2 separate regions of the Homo sapiens genome follow, and region 2 is linked to region 1. Evidence: fine-mapped expression QTL. Tissue or cell type: tibial nerve. Region 1 holds a variant in brackets; the other region holds the start of a gene. All regions are shown on one strand. Distances are between the middles of the regions.

Region 1 (5,385 bases):
TAGCCATCATTATATTTAATAGCAAAACATTAGTTATATTCCCATTAAAATATGCACAAAAAAGGAATATTGTTTAATATAGTTCTGAAAGCTGTGATCAATGCAATAACACATGATACAAAAGATATACTATTAACAAAGAAGAGATAAAATGATACTTATTTTGTGACAGTTATTGTATGACTATAAGTCCAAATAAATAACTTGAAAATTGTTTAAACACAAGGGGCTGAAAGTAAGATAGGCAGAAATCAAAAGCATTCCAATATAATTGTAATAATCAGCTAGAAACTTTTAAATGTATGTATATGTATGTATATATATATATAGTTTACCTTTTCTAAAACAGATTTGAGATGGTTTTAAAAAAAAGCTCATATGGTAGTAAGAAGAAAAAATATATAAAACATCTAGAAGTAGCTTTAATGCATAATGTCTTTCAAATAGTCAAAGAAAAGAACAAAATTTTATTAAGATATATTTATTAAAGTTTGAGAAAATGGAAAAATACACTATGTTCCTGGGCAGAAAGATGTTGATATAAATATTTAAATATTTTCCAAATAATGTAGGTTTAACCAAGACATTCAACAAGTATTTATTGAGCACCCACTGTATACCAAGCAAAATGCTAGGTACTAGGGATACAGTCATGAACAACACAAAGGCTCTGCCCTCCTGGTGTTTCAATTCTTGAGGAGTTGGCACAACAAACAAATAAAGCCTTAATATAGTATAGTGTCAGGTAACGATATGTGCATTGAATAAAAATAAAATAGGGTTAAGGGATAGAGAATGAAAGAAGGGGGATGTGGTCAGGGAAGGTCTTTGAGGGAGTAACATTGGAACAGATACTTGAATAAAGTGTAGGAGAGAGCCGTGTGGCTATCTGGGAGAGCAGTATTTCTTGCAGAGGGAACAGCAAATGCAAAGGCCCCAACATGCTACCAGCCTGATATAGTCTAGAAACTGCAAGAAATGTAGTGTTGCACTGGGCACGGTGGCTCATGCCTGTAATCCCAGCACTTTGGGAGGCCGAGGCGGGAGGATCACCTGAGGTCAGGAGCTCAAGACCAGCCTGACCAATATGGAAAAACCCCGTCTCTACTAAAAATACAAAAAAATTAGCCGGGTATGGTGGTGCATGTCTGTAATCCCAGCTACTCGGGAGGCTGAGGTAGGAGACTCGCTTGAACCTGGGAGGCAGAGGTTGCGGTGAGCCGAGATCACACCACTGCACTCCAGCCTGGGCAGCAAGAGCAAAACTCTATCTCAAAAAAAAAAAAAAAAAAAAAAAAAGAAAAGAAAGAAAAGAAAAGAAATACAGTGTTGCTAAAGCAGAGTGCGTAAAGTGGAGACCTGTGGGAGATGAAGATGGAGGTAATGTGAGGGCAGATTGTGCAGGCCCTTGTAGAACAGGACTTTGGGGTGTAAGTCTTGTGGTAGCTGTTTTGACCAGGTGAGGATGTGATCTAATAAGGTTTTTTTTAAAGAGCTGTCTGGTCTTGATGCTGAGAATAGACAGGGTACAGGTGAGGGGAAAATAGAGCAGTAAGAACAGTTAGGAGGTTATTTCAGTAATTCAGTCTGGAAAAGATGGGCTTGTACTTGTATAGTAGGGGTGGAAAGAACCAGAAGTAGATTTCAGATAGATTTTGGAGATAGACATAAAAGATTTGCTGATGGGTTGGGTATGAAGGGTGGGACCATGGGAGGAATCCAGGTTGGTCCCTTGATTTTTGTCCTGAAGTTACTGGTTAGATCACGGTGCTAATTGCTTCACTGGGGAAGACTGGGAAAGGAGCAGGAGCTGGAGATTGAAACCAGGAGTCTTAACACATGTTAAGTTTGAAATGTCTGTTAGACTCCAAGTGGAAGTGGTGATGTTGAGTAGGCAGTTGCTAAAAGATCATGAAACTCATAGAAACATGTTGGGCCATCAACAGATAGATGGAATGTACAGCCAGAGGATTGGATGAGGTCATCGACGGAGAGAATGCAGAGAGAATCCTGGGGCTCACCAACATGAAGAATTTGGGACAAGAAAGAAGATCCAGCAGAGAAGACTGAAAGAAGGCAACTAATGAAATAGGAGAGAACCTGGAGAGCACAGAGTCTTAGAGGCCAAGAAAGTGGTTTAATATAATCCGTATCAAAGCATTTGTGGTTTATTTTTGTTAACTGACAAAAGGATTCTAAAACATACCTGAAAAGTATAATTCACACCTAGGATAATGGATCATTCTGTCACATTGTTCCTTTTTCACAGCTGATATGAACATGATATTTTCATGACTTTGTAAAATAAAAATGGAATCTTTCTAATTTTTTTAAAAAAACTGCTTACTTATGCAAGCCTTCTGTCTCTCACTGTATAACCCCTCCACTTTTATACGGGTCACACATGTTTCTGTCACTTTCCTGGAGCCCTTGTAGCAAATTAATAACATGTAGCACATGCTTGAAGAAAAATTTGTCTAGGACATTTTGTTTTTGAGATTCATAAATTGACTCTATTTTACATAAGAATCTATTATGCCATAGGAAGCTTATTAAACCCTTGAGCAGGAACAAATTATTCAATAAATGGTGATGAGATGAATGCCTAGAAATACAAAAACTTTGATTTCTCACTTTATTCCACACACCAAAGTGAATTCTAGATTGGTTAAACATTTAAATATTTAAAAATTTAACAGTAGAAACATTTGA[A/C]GAAAACATGGATATTTATTTATAAAACTTCTACAAGGGGGAAGTTTTCCTATACTAGAAATAACAGAAAAAACTATAAAGACCAGCAGATCTATAAAAATGAGAAATTCTATACACAAAACAACTATTAGACAAATATTAAAATGGAAAAATGTTTTCCATAAAATGTCAAAGTTAATATAGTTTCTACATAAAGACCTCAGGCAAACAGATACGAAAACTGGTAGGGTCCCTGTTGATAGCTGGCCAATATAATATTTATGAAAGAGATCATTACCCAAAAGAGAAAATTCACCCAGTCAACACATATATGCAAGCATGTTGATCCTTGATAGTAACCAAAGAAACAACACAAAAAAATCGTGCTCATTTTTCACTAATACTATTACTAAAGATTAGTTTTTTTGTTGTTTTGGTTTTGTTTTTGACACAGGGTCTCACTCTGTTACTTAGGCTAGAGTGCAGTGGCACAATCATAGCTCACTGCATTCTTAAATTTCTTGGTTCAAGAGATCTTCCCACCTCAGCCTCCTGAGTAGCTGGGACTACAGGCACATGCCACCACTCCCTGATAATTTAAAACAATGTGGGTTTTTTTGTAGAAATGGGGTCTGCTATGTTGCCCAGGCTGGTCTTGAACTCCTGACCTCAACGAGTCCTCCCACCTCGGCATCCCAAAATGCTGGATTACCAGTGTGAGCCACTGCACCCAGCCCTAAAGATTTGTTTTTAAAAATAATAATATACATCCTTGGGAAAGGTTCAGTTAAGGGGACTCTCTTTTGTACTGATGATATAAATTTAGACAAGCAATTTGAATTTGTATCAAGATCCCTCAAAAAGAAAAGTCTGTATTCAGTGGGTGACTTGGCATCTCCACTTGTAGACTATCTTAAAGAAATATAAAGCTTTTCATAAAAATAAATAAAAATATATATCCCATTATTTATAATTACCTACAAATGGAAATGAAAGTTTTGCAGATACAGTGGACCTGAAATGGTTAAATTAGAAAACAGCCTTTCCTGTTGGAGCCAGAAAATAATTTCTAATAACGTTACAAAGGAAGCTTCACTGCATGCATTCTTTTGCCCAGTGGGGATCTCTTTGTAGCCCTGACCCCAATCAGTAAGTTACTTCGCCCACCAAAAGAAGAAGAATTTAGCTTCCATCCACACAATGTGGGCACAACCTACAGGCCGCTGACCAGGGAACATGGAGAACCAGATTAAAGGGCTGGAAAACTACAGGATCATGCAAATAGAAAGGGAAGCTTCCTCTGATAACAAACAAGCAGCAATAGGCATTCTTGCAGAGTTTATTGAAGGAAAACAATGTCTCCTTTGCAATAAAATCGATATAGGCTATTATTTTGAGCAAACTCAAAGACAGAATTTCTGCAGAGAAATTAGGGTGAAAAATGAAAGAAAATGACATTCCTGAAAATACTGCCTTAGGACAAGGCTCTTGAGGAAGATCATCAGCAGAACTTAGGTAAAGTCCAAAGCAGGGGAATCAGGCTCAGACTTCACACTCCAAGCATGCATTCATTTATTCACTCATTCATTCTTTCAGTAATTTATGTGTTGACGTAGCAAATATTTATTGAGCAGCAAATATATGCTAGACACTAAGCAAATATTGGAGGTTAAATTACCTTAGTGAAAAAGACAAGAAAAGTGTGCTTTCATGGATTGTATAATAGCAGCAAAGCTAGGCCTTAAAACAATAAAAAAAATTATTTAAGTTCAAATTGATAAGTACTAACAACAAAGAAGTTTTGAAATCTGTGAGAGTGAGTGACAGGAGAACCTAACCTAATCAGGGGATCAGATAATTCATTTGGGGGTTTCTAAGAGATTTGAAATTTTTAATGAACTTTTAAAGGTGAAAGATATTTACCTAAGGTAATCATTTTTACCAATTCCTTACTGGGGACAGAAATGGAAACTTAACTATTTGTAGTTTACTGAATACACAATATACATATATTTTCTATAGAGTTAAATATTAACTATAGGTTTTATACCATTGTATGAATTCCAGCAAACACATTCTATTATTTCTATAAAGACCTAAATTATTCTTTTGAATAGATACTTAGGCTGAGAGGAAACTTCCCATCTATTTAGTAAAGAGTATGGTATTTAACATCACTTTCTTCTGTCTAGTTATTCTAACAATGCCAAACCATAACCATTTAGTATAGGCATTTCAAGATAATACATCAATTCAAAACAAGTATTCATTGAGTGTGTGTTGTGTGATAAGCTGTGTTTTTGCAGCTGAGATAACAGTGGTGAGGAAAACAGACAAGGTCCCTGACTTTCTGGAATTTACATCTTAAAATGAACTTAAATTGTTTCTAATGTTTTAATTGACATTTCCAATAGCAATGGGAATGACCACTTTACTGCATATTGTATTCTCATCAATAGTGAGTACTATCATTACTTGCTTTTATAGAAGGAAAGTACAAAAAAAATGAAGGCATTGTTATGGGTTGAATTGTGTCCCCCCAAAAAAGATATGTTGAAGTCTCAAGCCCTAGTACCTCAGAAATGTGACCTTATTTGGAAACAGGGCTTGTGCAGATGTAGACAAGTTAAGATGAAATCATTAAAGTGGTCCCGACTCCAGTTGACTGTTCTCCCTGTGAATGCCATGTGAAGA
Region 2 (5,385 bases), 20 kb before region 1:
TCAAGTTCCAATCAAATCAGAATATCTTACTCAAAACCGTGGCTACCCACCACTTTTAAACATTTTCACAAATGGAGAAGGGGCAAAGAAAGAAAATAATTCCTTCTTCCTGTACTTGTAGCAGTGTTTAATTGCAGGGAGGTGGGTGACTGCTCCCGGGAATCATGCACAACACTGGCAAAAAACTGCCTGTGGAATGATCGGATATGACATCCATTCATGTGTCCCCTCATTATCTTTATTAGTCCTGAAGACAGATGACATGCTGACACGGAAAGTGGTCTCCAATCCCTTGCATTTCCCCTCACAAAACATACATGACCAATGCAAGGTATTATAATAGAAAACAGAAAATAAAATAACCTGGTAAGAGTGCGGTACAAAAAAAGAATATGAAGAGCCGTATTGACAACTATTCTCACAGATGTATATACGTACAGCAAACAGCCCAAATTAAAGGAGAATTCAAATAAATACATTCCGTGTTCAGACTGCTGTGGATAATTATTGATCCTGCAGTTGGAGCATTGTTTACCTCACACTGAACAGCAACTTAGAGAACCCCCTACCCAGACAGCCACCATCTTTACTTTCTATGGAAATGCGGGTGCCCACTGAGGAAGAGGATGAGATGGGATGAGAAGGGGAAGAAAAATAACATGGTCTTTGAACCAACGTTTTCCCCTTGTCCTGGAGAACTCTTTGTCTGGCTGCTGAACACGTTTGCCAGATCAAGGAAAAGAATCAAAACAAACAAACAAACAAAAAGAGTAGGCGTCCCAGCCTAATTACAATAGGTTCCCAACACATTGCAGTCCCAAGCAGAGCATCATTTGAATCTTGTGTTAAAGCATTTGCTCTCTCGGTTCCCCAATAAAACATGCCTCGCACACCTTCTCCTTTGCATTTCTACAAAGGTTCCCCCAAACGGCCCGCTCTGTGTCACTCCTTTAAAAATGAGGACGTGGGGCAGGAACACACTGAAATATATGTTGACGGTGACTTATTATCCTGACGATGATATATACATACAAATAAATCCCTCTACCCCGCACCCCCACTGACCAGTCCATTACGCACAGGGAGCGCTTTCCAGCTGAAGAGGAGAGCGTGCAGGAAACGTTATTTACGTGCAATTACAGGACCATATACCACGGCATCTGCATCCTACACAAAGCCCGAGATGGTGCAAGAAGATACACGCTGAGCATGGCACAGACCAGCCGCGGCAACACGGAGCCAAGCCCTCGTCCAATCAGATCGTTGTTAGAAGGTGGACCTCAGGGTCGGCCGTGCCCGATTAGCCTTCCCTATTATGACACCACGCTCTGCCCAACATCTATATCCCACCGAGAGCAAATCCAATTCGTGTGGTTGCTCATTTCTCAAACTGCCGAACCCTTTCTTTTATCTGCATCCCTGCTATTCGTTCCTCAAAAAGCCACCAGAAGGCCTCGGTGCCCCCTTTCCGCCTCGATTTCTCTTTTCACCTCTTCCCATTCCTCGAAAGGATTAAATGTTTATCTCTCCAACGCGCAAGCTGGAAAGGCGGAAGGCGAATGCCTCTATGCTGCTCCGGCAAGCGCCTGCGGGGCTGCGAAAAGTAAAGGCAACGAACAACGTGGGGGAAATCGTCGCGAATCGATCGGCCACAATAGTTGGAATCCCAGGAGCGCTCCAACTTACCCAAAATATGACATTGAAGCCAAATATGAAGTATTTGATGCAACAACTGACTTCAGGACCCTTGTAGTGCTTCCCGGACATCCTCTGGGTTCATGAAGACACTTGCCCCGGCAGCCCGAGTTTGGAGCTCCGAAGCACCGTTGCTCGGAGCAGCCCGGCGGGGAGCAGGAGCTCAGGGACACCGCACGGGGCCGCGGCGCTGGCGGCCTGGGCTCAGCCGCGCGGGGACCGACCGGCGGAGAGCGGCTCCCGCACCTCCAGCCCCTCGCGCGCCGAGGCCGCCGGAGCCGGGGTGGCCGCGAGAAAGCAGGGAAGCCGCGCGCTGCAAGCTCAAGCCTCGCCGACGCTAGCCCCGAACACAAAGCGAGCGCCCGCGTCCGTGCGCCAGGCGGTCGGTCCGTCGGTTCGTCCCCGGGCTTCGGGCAAAGGCGGCCGCGGCAGATGCTGGTGGAGACGCCGCTCGCTTGCTCGCCCGCCCGTTCGCGCGCGCCCTCCCACCCCTCGCTCCGCCCGCCTCTCGCTCCGCCCGCCCGGCCGGCTGCTCCTCCGCCCGCGCCGCCCGCAGCTCCGCCCGCCGCCCAAGCCTTGGCTAGGCGCGCGCGCGCACGGGGTCGGGCGCTCCCGGGCGGCGGTGGCACCACGTAGCCGCCTCCTTCCACCGCTCGCTTTATCCCCGCCCCTTCTCGGGCCAACCCCAAGCGCCGCTGACCCCGAACGTCGCTGCGGGGTAGGTAGGGGGTGGGAGGGTGGAGGACCGCAGGCGAGAGGGAGAAGGAAGGGCGCCCGGGGAGCAGGCTGGCAGAGTGACCGGGATTGATGAGCGGCGCAGCTCTGGAGGGACGCGGGCGAGAGGGTCGCTCCTCGGGGAGAGGGCTGGGTGAGTGAGGACCTGCGAGCCACCCCCGACACCCCTTCCAGGGTAGCCACACTGGCGCCCCCTCCTCCACAACAGGCTTATGTGGCTAGAGAAGATGCGATGCCACTGGACAGGGAAGGAAAGTCGTCGTGGACTTCGCTGAATGGAAAAGGGGGTAGTTGGGGAAGGTGGAGAAAAGAGCCACGGGAAGTGGGAGGAAAGGATGAAGGGATGGGACGTTGAAAAGGAAAGCTTCCTGAATCCCTGTGTGACTCTAACCCAACCTCCCCACCTACCGGAGAAATGGGTTTTATCCTAGAAATGGGGACGAGGAAAAAGAGATGGCTCAAGGGAGTCCTGGCCCGGGATGCGATCCTCGCCCTAGGGTCTATTGCAACCACACAAACCCGGACAGCGCACGCTCCCCCCTACCCCGACAGAATAGTGCCTAAGAAACCTGCTTGCCTCCTAACTCTAGGAAGGAATCCACAACGGATTCCAGGGAGGTCTTCTGGGGAATCTGAATTGGGTTTTTGGATCACGAACCATTAAGCTTTTGAACTCTGGGGAAGAATAGAACAGGTGGCTGGAAATTGTTTTAGAACCCTACCTGAGCAGGTGTGCTCATTAGTTGCTTATCCGCCCTCCTCCTGGAGCACTTTCATAGGTGTTGGCAAAGCAGGTACCAGTATTTCACGGAAGGAGAAGGAAGAACCGCCCAGGACTGTGTATAAATGTCTATGGGAATATTTTTAAGGATTCAAAAGGCTAGAAGGAGGTGAGATCAAAAAATTTTTCCAGCACCACCCAGTGCAACCCGATCCTGGACACAGAAATCTAAAAGATGATACTTAAATACTTGAGTTTGAGAGCCTCTAGTTATAAGGTTTCCTACGTAACAACCTCTCACTTTTCTCAAAAACTGGCTAGTTGACAACCGGCAGTCAAGTTTTGGCTAGTCAAGAAGCTACTTTTTCCTGCAATAAACCACATTTAGAGATAGTACTGGGCTTCAGCAGGATTGAGGCTATATTGAGGTCGCAAGTATGAACGAGGTACCCACAGAGATGGGAGGGCCAGGAGATCCTACTCATTCAGTACCTCAGAAGCTATGACACGGGATAACAGTAGCTTCAGCCCTTTGGATGAAATAATCCTCACTCCCTCAAAAGTGCTCTCTACCCACTCAAAACACAGGCCATACTACCACCAATCTGGTAGACTTCAAAAGTAAGGTCTTTCAGCAGCAGATTTCCTTGTTAACAGGAAGGTACTGACAAGCTTTACCTAAGCCTATTGGAGCTATGTTGTAATTCTGTATATAAATAGAACAGTCGCTGCAGGAATACTGGATGAGTCAGAAGAAAGGTCTGTCCTAAGCTGATGTGACACATTTCAAAAGGACCAGAAATTAGATGCAATTGATGACTGAGTTGATCTCTAAGTGGATTTATCTTTGAAATAAAAATCAGTGGATATCCCATATACCCGACCCCACACCCTCCCCCATTGTCAACATCCCCAACCAAAGTAGCACATTTGCTACAAATAGTGAACCTACATTGCCAGATCATTATCACCCAAAGTCCATAGTTTACATTAGGGTTCACTCTTGGGGCTGTATATTCTATAGGGTTGGACAAATATAGAATAACATGAACCCACCCTCATAGTATCATAGTATCATACAGAGTATTTTCACTGCCCTAAAAGTCCTCTGTACACCACCTATTTATCCCTTCCTCCCCCCAGTCTCTGGCAGCCACTGAAGTTTGACTGTATCCCTGTCTCCTTAGTTTTGCCTTTTCCGGAATGCCATATATAAGGAATCATACAGTATGCAGTCTTTCTTTCAATTTTGCTGTGAAACTAAAACTGCTAAGAAAATAAAGTCTTAAAAAGAAAAATCAATGGAGAAGGGAAAGGTAAGATAACTAATCAGTAATTTGGAGGGGGGGGTGGAAAAACTAATTGAATTATCTCATTTCGTATATCCAAAATAAGTTCTATGAGGATTAAGGAGTTAAATATATTTTAAAGCAGACCAGAAGGAAAAATATTTGTCAAACCTCTGTATAGAAGTATTTCTCAACTTAGAGGCAATAGAAGGAAATAATCAATGGATATGATTGGGTAATATCTTAAACACTTCTACGTGTCCAGCTTTTTTTAGTGTAAGCTAAACCAGAAAAAAAATTGGCAGCAAACATGAAAAATAAAAACCTGAATGTCTATATTATAAGTAGGGCTCATAGAGCTATAGTAAAATATAGAATCGCAGTGGTTGAGTATAAACAGAAAATAAATCATATAAGAAATAAAATATATGGGGAAATTAATCTAGTAATAAATGAAGTATACATTAAAACTAATAAAGATACAAAAATAATGAGCACTGGTTAGCACATACATTGTTGGTGTCCTTATGAAATAATATGTCCATTTGGAAAGCATTTTGGCTGTATATATCAGGTCAGAGTGCTCCTACATTTTGACTCAGCAGTCCCTCTTCTGGGAATCTACCCAAAGAAATACCCCAGCAGATGGAAAAAGTTATACACTGCAAGATGTATATCATAGCATTATTTATATTGAAGACTTGGCCAGAAATTAAAGATCAAAGAGTAGGGGTGATATCCAATTCCTTGTAGTTACTTGGACCACAATGTTCCTTCACATTCTGTGCCTCTGCACATGTCATTTAGAGTTTCTGCCTGGGGCATTCTCCTTGTCTCTTGTCTGTGAGCTGATTTCTCTTATTCTTCACTACTTTTGTTCAATGTCTCGGAGGCTCCTTCTTTATTCCCTCAACACCCGCTGTGTTCTTCCATCCCGGCACTTAA

What was found. PIP is the estimated chance that this variant, and not a neighbour inherited with it, causes the effect.
Region 2: TSPAN5 starts here. The variant in region 1 is fine-mapped to the expression of TSPAN5 in tibial nerve (GTEx, PIP 0.95).

The regions. Positions count from the first base shown.
Region 1 is chr4:98,676,029-98,681,413 of GRCh38, forward strand. It overlaps LOC112267901 (a long non-coding RNA gene), which reads left to right. Exons shown (of 3, transcript XR_939016.3): 3 at 1,947-2,620. Among named protein-coding and RNA genes, the nearest start is that of TSPAN5-DT, 20 kb to the left of the region's middle. The variant A/C (reference allele first, on the strand shown) is at 2,713.
Region 2 is chr4:98,656,460-98,661,844 of GRCh38, forward strand. It overlaps TSPAN5 (tetraspanin 5), which reads right to left and starts at 2,152. Exons shown (of 8, transcript NM_005723.4): 1 at 1,687-2,152. The coding sequence starts at 1,767. It overlaps TSPAN5-DT (TSPAN5 divergent transcript), which reads left to right and starts at 2,443. Exons shown (of 3, transcript NR_148380.1): 1 at 2,443-2,563; 2 at 4,339-4,467. It overlaps LOC112267901 (a long non-coding RNA gene), which reads left to right and starts at 2,264. Exons shown (of 3, transcript XR_939016.3): 1 at 2,264-2,413. RefSeq lists silencers at 1,717-1,876, 2,130-2,309.